Linked DNA regions of Homo sapiens. The protein of the gene in region 1 purifies or fractionates together with the protein of each later gene. This does not show direct contact. Each region holds a gene or a part of one and is shown in the gene's direction. Other genes may lie near its edges.

What was found.
Region 2: the proteins of CA11 (region 1) and PM20D2 purify together in Homo sapiens (affinity purification with mass spectrometry, with the first as the bait; one large-scale study listed by BioGRID). This does not show direct contact.

What each region holds. Positions count from the first base shown.
Region 1 is NC_000019.10:48,643,089-48,647,517, reverse strand, and holds the start of CA11 (carbonic anhydrase-related protein 11 precursor), read left to right. Parts: upstream 1-1,330; 5' UTR 1,331-1,885; coding exon 1,886-1,952; intron 1,953-2,040; coding exon 2,041-2,115; intron 2,116-2,948; coding exon 2,949-3,091; intron 3,092-4,429. UniProt on the Homo sapiens protein: Does not have a catalytic activity.
Region 2 is NC_000006.12:89,155,832-89,159,640, forward strand, and holds part of PM20D2 (xaa-Arg dipeptidase), read left to right. Parts: intron 1-2,493; coding exon 2,494-2,629; intron 2,630-3,809. UniProt on the Homo sapiens protein: Catalyzes the peptide bond hydrolysis in dipeptides having basic amino acids lysine, ornithine or arginine at C-terminus. Postulated to function in a metabolite repair mechanism by eliminating alternate dipeptide by-products formed during carnosine synthesis.

The sequences.
Region 1 (4,429 bases):
CTGTAGTCCCAACTATTTGGGAGGCTGAGGTGGAAGGAGTGTTTAAGCCCAGGAGGTCGAGGCTGGATCAAGCCATGATCGCACCACTGCTCTCCAGCCTGGGTGACATTGCAAGGCTTGTCTCAAAAAAGAAAATAAAAGAAGACAATGAGCAGTTTCACTACCATTAGACGGGGTGAAAAATAATAAATAACAACAACAACAGTAATATGTGGTCTCTCTGAGGCTGGGTATGGTTGTTCATGCCTGTAATCTCAATGCTTTGGGAGGCCAAGGTGGGAGGATCCCTTGAGGACAGGAGTTTGAGACTAGCCTGAGCAACATAGCATGACCCCATCTCTTCTCCCCAAATACAAAAATGTGGTGTCTCTCTCTGTCTTTGGATCGCTCTTTCTCTCTTTTTGTCTCTCCCCACCCCATCTGCTGCTTGGTCTCTGAGTTTCTGTCTATCTCTAAGTGTGTGTCTCTATGTCTCCATGTCTGTCTCGCTGCGTCTCTGTATCTCCTTTTCTGCCTCTATCTGTATCTCTCTCATTCATTCCTTCCTCTCTCCCTCCCCCTCCTCCTCTCCCTCCTCCCCCTCCTCTCCCTCCCCCTCCTCTCCCTCCTCCCCCTCCTCCTTCACCTCCTCCCCCTCCTCCTCACTCCTGCCTGGCGGTTTGTTCTTGCCTCTCTAACCTTCTGTCCCTCCGCCCTTCCTCTCCGTATCCATCTCAGGCTCCCTTCCCCTCCCCAGCCTACGCAGATGTGGGTCCTCACCTCCCGCTCTCCGCCTCTGCCCTCCCGGCTCCTCCTCCCCGCCCCTCTCTCCCTCGCCAGGTCTCTGCCTCCCCCTCCAGGCGAGCAGCCCTCACTGCACTTCAGGCTCCTAGGGGATCCCCCGGCCCCGTTAAGGCAGCCCCAGGCAGAGACCCAGTGGAGCCCTGGGGCGGGGAAGGGGGGCTGCGGGCGCTGGGGCGGCTCCAACCTGGGTCCCAGCGAGCAGGGGGACCCTGCATCCGCCAAGGCCGGCGGCCCCCAGCATGGAGACTTCCGAAGCCACTCCCAGCTCCACCTTAAGCGCCCCCCCTTCCCCTTGCTGCGGAGGATGGAAACAGCCTGCTCCCGGCCCCAGGTGTCCCGGCCACCCCCGCCCGCGTGGCCCCAGCGCGGCTGGGAGCCGAGGACCAGCCCCCTACCTCCTTCCGAATCCTGCCCTTTCGCACATCCCACCCCAAGCCAACCCGAGGAGTGTTTGCCGCTATGAGATCACCTGCTCCCCCAGCCCAACAACAAAATTAAATAACACCACGGGAGAGGAGAGAGGGAGGGGGAGGAGGGAGGAAGGGACAAGAGAGAAGAGAGACTGAAACAGGGAGAAGAGGCAGGAGAGGAGGAGGTGGGGAGAGCACGAAGCTGGAGGCCGACACTGAGGGAGGGCGGGAGGAGGTGAAGAAGGAGAGAGGGGAGAAGAGGCAGGAGCTGGAAAGGAGAGAGGGAGGAGGAGGAGGAGATGCGGGATGGAGACCTGGAGTTAGGTGGCTTGGGAGAGCTTAATGAAAAGAGAACGGAGAGGAGGTGTGGGTTAGGAACCAAGAGGTAGCCCTGGGGGCAGCAGAAGGCTGAGAGGAGTAGGAAGATCAGGAGCTAGAGGGAGACTGGAGGGTTCCGGGAAAAGAGCAGAGGAAAGAGGAAAGACACAGAGAGACGGGAGAGAGAAGAAGAGTGGGTTTGAAGGGCGGATCTCAGTCCCTGGCTGCTTTGGCATTTGGGGAACTGGGACTCCCTGTGGGGAGGAGAGGAAAGCTGGAAGTCCTGGAGGGACAGGGTCCCAGAAGGAGGGGACAGAGGAGCTGAGAGAGGGGGGCAGGGCGTTGGGCAGGGGTCCCTCGGAGGCCTCCTGGGGATGGGGGCTGCAGCTCGTCTGAGCGCCCCTCGAGCGCTGGTACTCTGGGCTGCACTGGGGGCAGCAGGTAAGACCTGGGGTTCCCGGGAGGAGCCCCCGAGGGAGGGTGGAGGTGGGGATGCCAAGGAGAGGGATTCAGGCTGCTCTCTTCCCAGCTCACATCGGACCAGCACCTGACCCCGAGGACTGGTGGAGCTACAAGGATAATCTCCAGGGAAACTTCGTGCCAGGTGCCGCCAAGGCGGGGACCCAGGAGTCCGGCCCTCCCGGCGCCTCCTTCTTCAGACTCAGGAACCTGGGTTCCCAGCTCCCTCCTCCCCCCCAGGACCAGGAGTCCCAGCCCCCTCCTCTGTCCCTCAGGAGTCGGGCCAGCTTCTGAACCCCAGGGGCTCACCATGGGACATTATACATGCGCATTTCAAGTAGTGAGTGGGAGTGAGTGGAAGGAAAGTGTGGGGGTGGAGATTATGTGTGTGTTTGCCGGGAGAGGAAGGTCCTGGCTCCTGCTAGGAACCAGAGGCTGGGTGGCCCCGTCCCCCACCTTGTCCAGCCTTCTCTTGCAGCTCCTCTCCCCAACACATTAATAATAATCCAGCTGTGGGATAAGAGCGATTAAAAAAAAGAACTACAACTCCCACGGGGCTCTGGGGCAGGTAGGCAGCAGAGGGGTAGGCTGGTAGCACTGGGGCCTGCTGGGAGTTGTAGTTCCATCTACAGTGGCTTAAGATGGGTTTGATCGGCTGGGCGCGGTGGCTCACGCTTGAAATCCCAGCACTTTAGGAGGCCGAGGTGGGTGGATTACCTGTGGTCAGGAGTTCAAGACCAGCCTGGCCAACTTGGTGAAACCCGTCTCTGCTAAACTTGGAAACTATTCCAAGATTCTTCTAGGACCCAGAATTCTGGATCTGAGCCCAGTCCTCCCTCAGACCCAGGAGTCTAGGTCCCTAGCCCCTCCTCCCCTGGGATCTGGGAGTCCAGACCACAGCCCACTCAGCAGATACCAGCCCTGGGATCCAGTCTCTATTTCTGACTCCTTGTCCTCCTACTCCGACCCCACCCCCAGGGCCTCCTTTCTGGGGCCTGGTGAATGCAGCGTGGAGTCTGTGTGCTGTGGGGAAGCGGCAGAGCCCCGTGGATGTGGAGCTGAAGAGGGTTCTTTATGACCCCTTTCTGCCCCCATTAAGGCTCAGCACTGGAGGAGAGAAGGTAAGGGGCTTGGAGGGAGGAGCTATTGAACCCACTGGGGATGGGCATGAATAGAGGCTGGGGAATGGGGTGCTGAGGTAGGAGAGCAGCCTTGGGGGAGGAGGGGACACCCAGTGGGTGGAGAGGAGGCTGCTTACACTGTAAAATGGATCACCCATTCTTCCCATCCCAAGCATGGTCCCCTAGTCTCCCCATCTCTGCAGAAGCAATGAAAAGCAGAACATTTCCTGTGCCAGGCAGATTTAAAACCTTGATAAGCCTCTCATCTCATAACCACCCCACAAAATGGGTACAATTATTATTATTGTTATTATTATTATTATTATTTTGAGATGGAGTTTTGCTCTTGTTGCCCAGGCTGGAGTGCAATGATGTGATCTCAGCTCACTGCAACCTCCACCTCCCAGGTTCAAGCGATTCTCCTGCCCCAGCCTCCCGAGTAGTTGGGATTACAGGCATGCGCACCATCACGCCCAGCTAATTTTTTGTATTTTTAGCAGAGATGGGTTTTCTCCATTTTGGTCAGGCTGGTCTTGAACTCCTGACCTCAGGTGATCCACCTGCCTCGGCCTCCCAAAGTGCTAGGATTACAGGCATGAGCCACTGCGTCCAGCCAAAATGGGTACAATTATTAACCTTATTATATACATGCAGAAACTGACACACAGAGGTTAAGTTACTTGCCTAGGATCACACAGAGAGCCAGCACTGGCATTCAAACCAAGCAGCGTAGCATGAATGCTGGGACCTGCTTTATAGTACCATGCTGGGAACCATACTTTTTTTTTTTTTTTTTGGAATTGGGATCTCACTCTGTGACCCAGGCTGGAGTGCAGTGGCCCAGTCATAGCTCACTGTAACCTCAAATTCCTGGGCCCAAGTGATCTTCCTACCTCAGCCTCAAAAATAGCTAGGACATGCCTGGGTGTGGTGGTTCATGCCTGTAACCCCAGCACTTCGGGAGGCCGAGGTGGGTGGATCACGAGGTTAGGAGTTCGAGATCAGCCTGGCCAACATGGTGAAACCCCATCTCTACTAAAAATACAAAAATTAGCCGGGTGTGGTGGCATGTGCCTGTAATCCCAGCTACTTGAGAGGCTGAGGCAGGAGAATTGCTTGAACCCGGGAGGCGGAGGTTGCAGTGAGCTGACATCACGCCACTGGACTCCAGCCTGGGTGACAGAACAAGACTCCATCTCAGAAAGAAATAAATACAGAGAGAGAGGGAGAGAAAAGAAAGAGAGAGAGCGAGAAAGAAAGAGAGAAAGAGAGAAGGAAGGAAGGAAGGGAAGGAAGGAAAGGAAGGAAGAAGCCAGGACTGCAGGCACATGCCAGTAT
Region 2 (3,809 bases), on another chromosome or scaffold:
CTTCCAAGTAGCTGGGACTACAGGCGCTTGCCACCACACCTGGCTAATTTTTTTTTTTCTTTTTTTTTTTTGAGGCGGAGTCTTGCCCTGTCACCCAGGCTGGAGTGCAATGGCGCAATCTCAGCTCACTGCAACCTCTGCCTCCCAGGTTCAAACAATTCTCCTGCCTCAGCCTCCTGAGTAGCTGGGATTACAGGCGCCTGCCTCCACACCCAGCTATTTTTTTGTATCTTTAGTAGAGACGAGGTTTCATCATGTTGGCCAGGCTGGTCTCGAACTCCTGACCTTGTGATCCACCCACCTCAGCCTCCCAAAGTGCTGGAATTACAGGTGTGAGCCACCACACTGACTGGTTTTGTTGATTTGAACTATAAAGTTAGTATTTAAAATCATGTACTGTGTAAAGTGGAGTGAGTTTTAGAATTATACAAGATAAGAATCTTGCCCTAGAGGGAGCCTGTAGTCTAGTTGGAGAGACAAGATCTTGACCCATAACTCTCAGCCTAGCTAATTCTGTAACCTTTAGAAATGTTTAGTGTCTTTGGCTCTCCATTTTCTTGCTTGAAAAATGGAGATAATAACAATTTATCTTAGGATTCTTGTGAGAATTAAATGAGATAATGTTTCTGAAGGGTTTAGAGCCCAGCCTTCATTTATATTGCCTTATTTTTTTCTGTTCTTATTAGTCTAGAGATGTATGATTGATTCACGTAGTAGCAGTATCTCACAGTAGCAGTAATTCTCAGAAAGCATATGTTACGTGTCCTGAGAGTAGTGTGGAATGTGTCGTGAGGATCAGAGGTGGGAAAGAGTGGTCTGGGGCTGTTAACCTTGGAGGAAGGTTTTGTGGAAGACTGTAGACCTGAACTGAGCTTTGAAGGTTGATCATACTTTCAGATATGCATGGGAAAGACAGAGACTGAAAGTTCTTAGGGAATATAGTCAGCAAAGATAAGAATATAGAAGCTCGTGTTGTGTTGTAGTTAATCGATAAACATATGGACAGATGTAGGAGCAAAGATGTATTCTCATATGCCACTAGAGAAGATGGTTATAGTGAATGAAAACTGTGAAATGTCCATAGCTGAGGGCAGTAAAAACTAAATATTTATTCCCTTATTCATTTATAATTATAAATATTTATTTGTGAAATACTTATGGATGTGAACTATTATCATTAGGCAATATCTCAAGGTATACAGTATTCCCTTATGGTAAGGTTTGTTGTTATTGGATTTGAATCTATATTTAATTTAATTTATTTATTTTTAAAGTTTTTTGTAGAGATAGGCTCTCCCTGTGTTGCCCAGGCTGGTCTCAAACTCCTGGGCTCAAGTGATCCTCGTGCTTTGGCCTCCCAAAGTTCTGGGATTGCAGGTGTGAGCCACCTTGCCTGGCCTAAATCTATATTTTAAATAATCTTTTAGTAATTTCTTATATTTTGGCTGACTTGTAAGGTCTGATTTGGTTGTCATAATTTCTACCGTAGATGTTGCTAAGAATAAAAGAAATGTCATCTCTGCCATTTTATGATTGGCTTTTGCTAATATTGGTTTGAGGGAATATTGCCAATTTTTATTTAATCAAAACTGAATCTGTAAATCCACTTAACTGGGCACATAAAAGCTGCTTCCGTATCTTTATATACTGAAATTAATAAATGAGGACTGTTGTCAACCCTTCCTCATTGCAAATCTTCTACATTTCCCTCAGAGTACTTTTCTACCTCTCACACCAGGCAGTGATGTCAGTGTCAGTTTGCATATTGAATATTAGTAAAGCTTAATTTCTTTTTTTTGGAGACTGAATCCTAGAGCAGTGTTCCTCAGAGTGTGGTTTTTGGGTCACCTATGTCAGAATTACTTTGAGGTGCTGGTTAAAATAAAAATTAGGCTGGGTGCAGTGGCTCATGCCTGTAATCCCAGCACTTTGGGAGGCCGAGACGGGCAGATCACATGAAGTCAGGAGTTTGAGGCCAGCCTGGCCAACATGGCAAAACCCCATCTCTACTAAAATACAAAAACAATTAGCTGGGCTTGGTGGCAGGCGCCTGTAATCCCAGCTACTTGGGAGGCTAAGGCAGGAGAATCATTTGAACCTGGGAGGCGGAGGTTGTGGTGAGCTGAGATCACACCACTGCACTCCAGCCTGGGCAACAGAGTGAGACTCCATCTCAAAAATAAAATAAAAATTTCTGGGCCCTTCTCATACCCTATCTAGGTGACTGAAGTTGACACTTGGTAGCTAGTATAGAGCTTGGTGACATTGTGGGGTTTAGTGTATATATAGCATAAAAGAGAGTCCTAGGAACTCTCGTTATAGAAAATAAATCTTTTTTCTTTTTTAAGGTAAGAGATTTGAGAGTGTTTATATCTGGAAGGGAAAGTATCTTCTCTTAAAACCTCTTCCTATTAGAGAACAATCACTGGTTTGAAAATTAGATAGTGAATTTGAGTTTTTTATTTCAAAATTTGTTTTGCAATTTTTTATTAGGTGGAAATTAAAGGTGGAGCACATGATTATTACAATGTTCTTCCCAATAAGAGCCTATGGAAAGCCTATATGGAAAATGGAAGAAAGCTAGGAATAGAGTTCATTTCAGAAGATACAATGTTGAATGGCCCTTCAGGTAATTAAGTGTTTTTTTATATATTGAGCTATTTGAGGAAGAGAAATACCATCTTTGGTTAAATTGGTTGTATTTAATGGTTTGGGAGGTCGGGAGGTACTACTGACGTTTTTAATATTTTCACAAACTTTATGGTTAGGGGAAAGAAACTAATGGACTCTTAAGTGAGTGTAGAATGTCAAACGAGCAGACTTGATTTTAGAAATAGTCAACCTACATTTTTGTCTGTATTCTAAATATTTTCTAGTGTTTAAGTTTCGTTAGTTTTAATTTTTAAGTAAGTTGCTAAGGTGGGATATAGAATTTTAATTCATTCTCAGTCATCACAATAAGCAGGTTACTAAGTACTTAGTTATCTGGGGCATTTTCAGTTTCTGAGGAGCAACAGACAGCTAGAATTGAAATAAGCATATTTGGGGTTATGTTAGTTTTTTTTTCCTTTTAAAAGCATATTATTACTAATACATTTGCAAGTTAGAGATGTATCATCTGTTTTAAAAATAGATGTTGTTGAAGTAGGCCCAAAAGGACTTGGTGGTGAAAATGGGGTGTCGGTGTCATTCATTAAGATAAGGAGTTCAAGAGAAAGAGCAGGTTAGGGTAAGAGGGGGTTGTTATAAATTATTAGTATGTTAAACTTGAGGTGCTTATAGTATTTCTAAGTGGAGCTGTTCAGTACCTGTTAAATCTAGAACCCAAAAAGATGTCTAGTTTGGAGATTTAGGAGTTGTCCATATATGAAAGGTATATAGAAGACATAGATGTCGATGAGGTTGCCCAAATACATAGAGGAAGAAGATTCCCAGAGATCAGACATTGGCAGTCAACGAAGTGGTCAGAGAGAAAGCCAGACAATCAGGAGAGAGGAGAAGTCATGGAAGCCAAGGGAGAAGAAAACTTACAGAAGAGAAGGAGGCATAAATCATGTCAAGTGCTGTAGAGACTGAATAAGATGAATATGGTCTAGTGTCCACTGGACTCTAGTAATTAGAAATTCATGAATTGTCTGGAAGAAAATAGTATAAGACCAGTGGTACCAGATGCTGGGTCTCACTTCTCTACCCAGGGCATTGACTGCTGAGATAGTGGAAGTAGCAAATGAAGACTATTCTTTTTCAAGAGAGTTAGCTTTCAAGGAAAATAGAAAGAGTGGATACAAGCTTGAGGGAAATACGGAAAA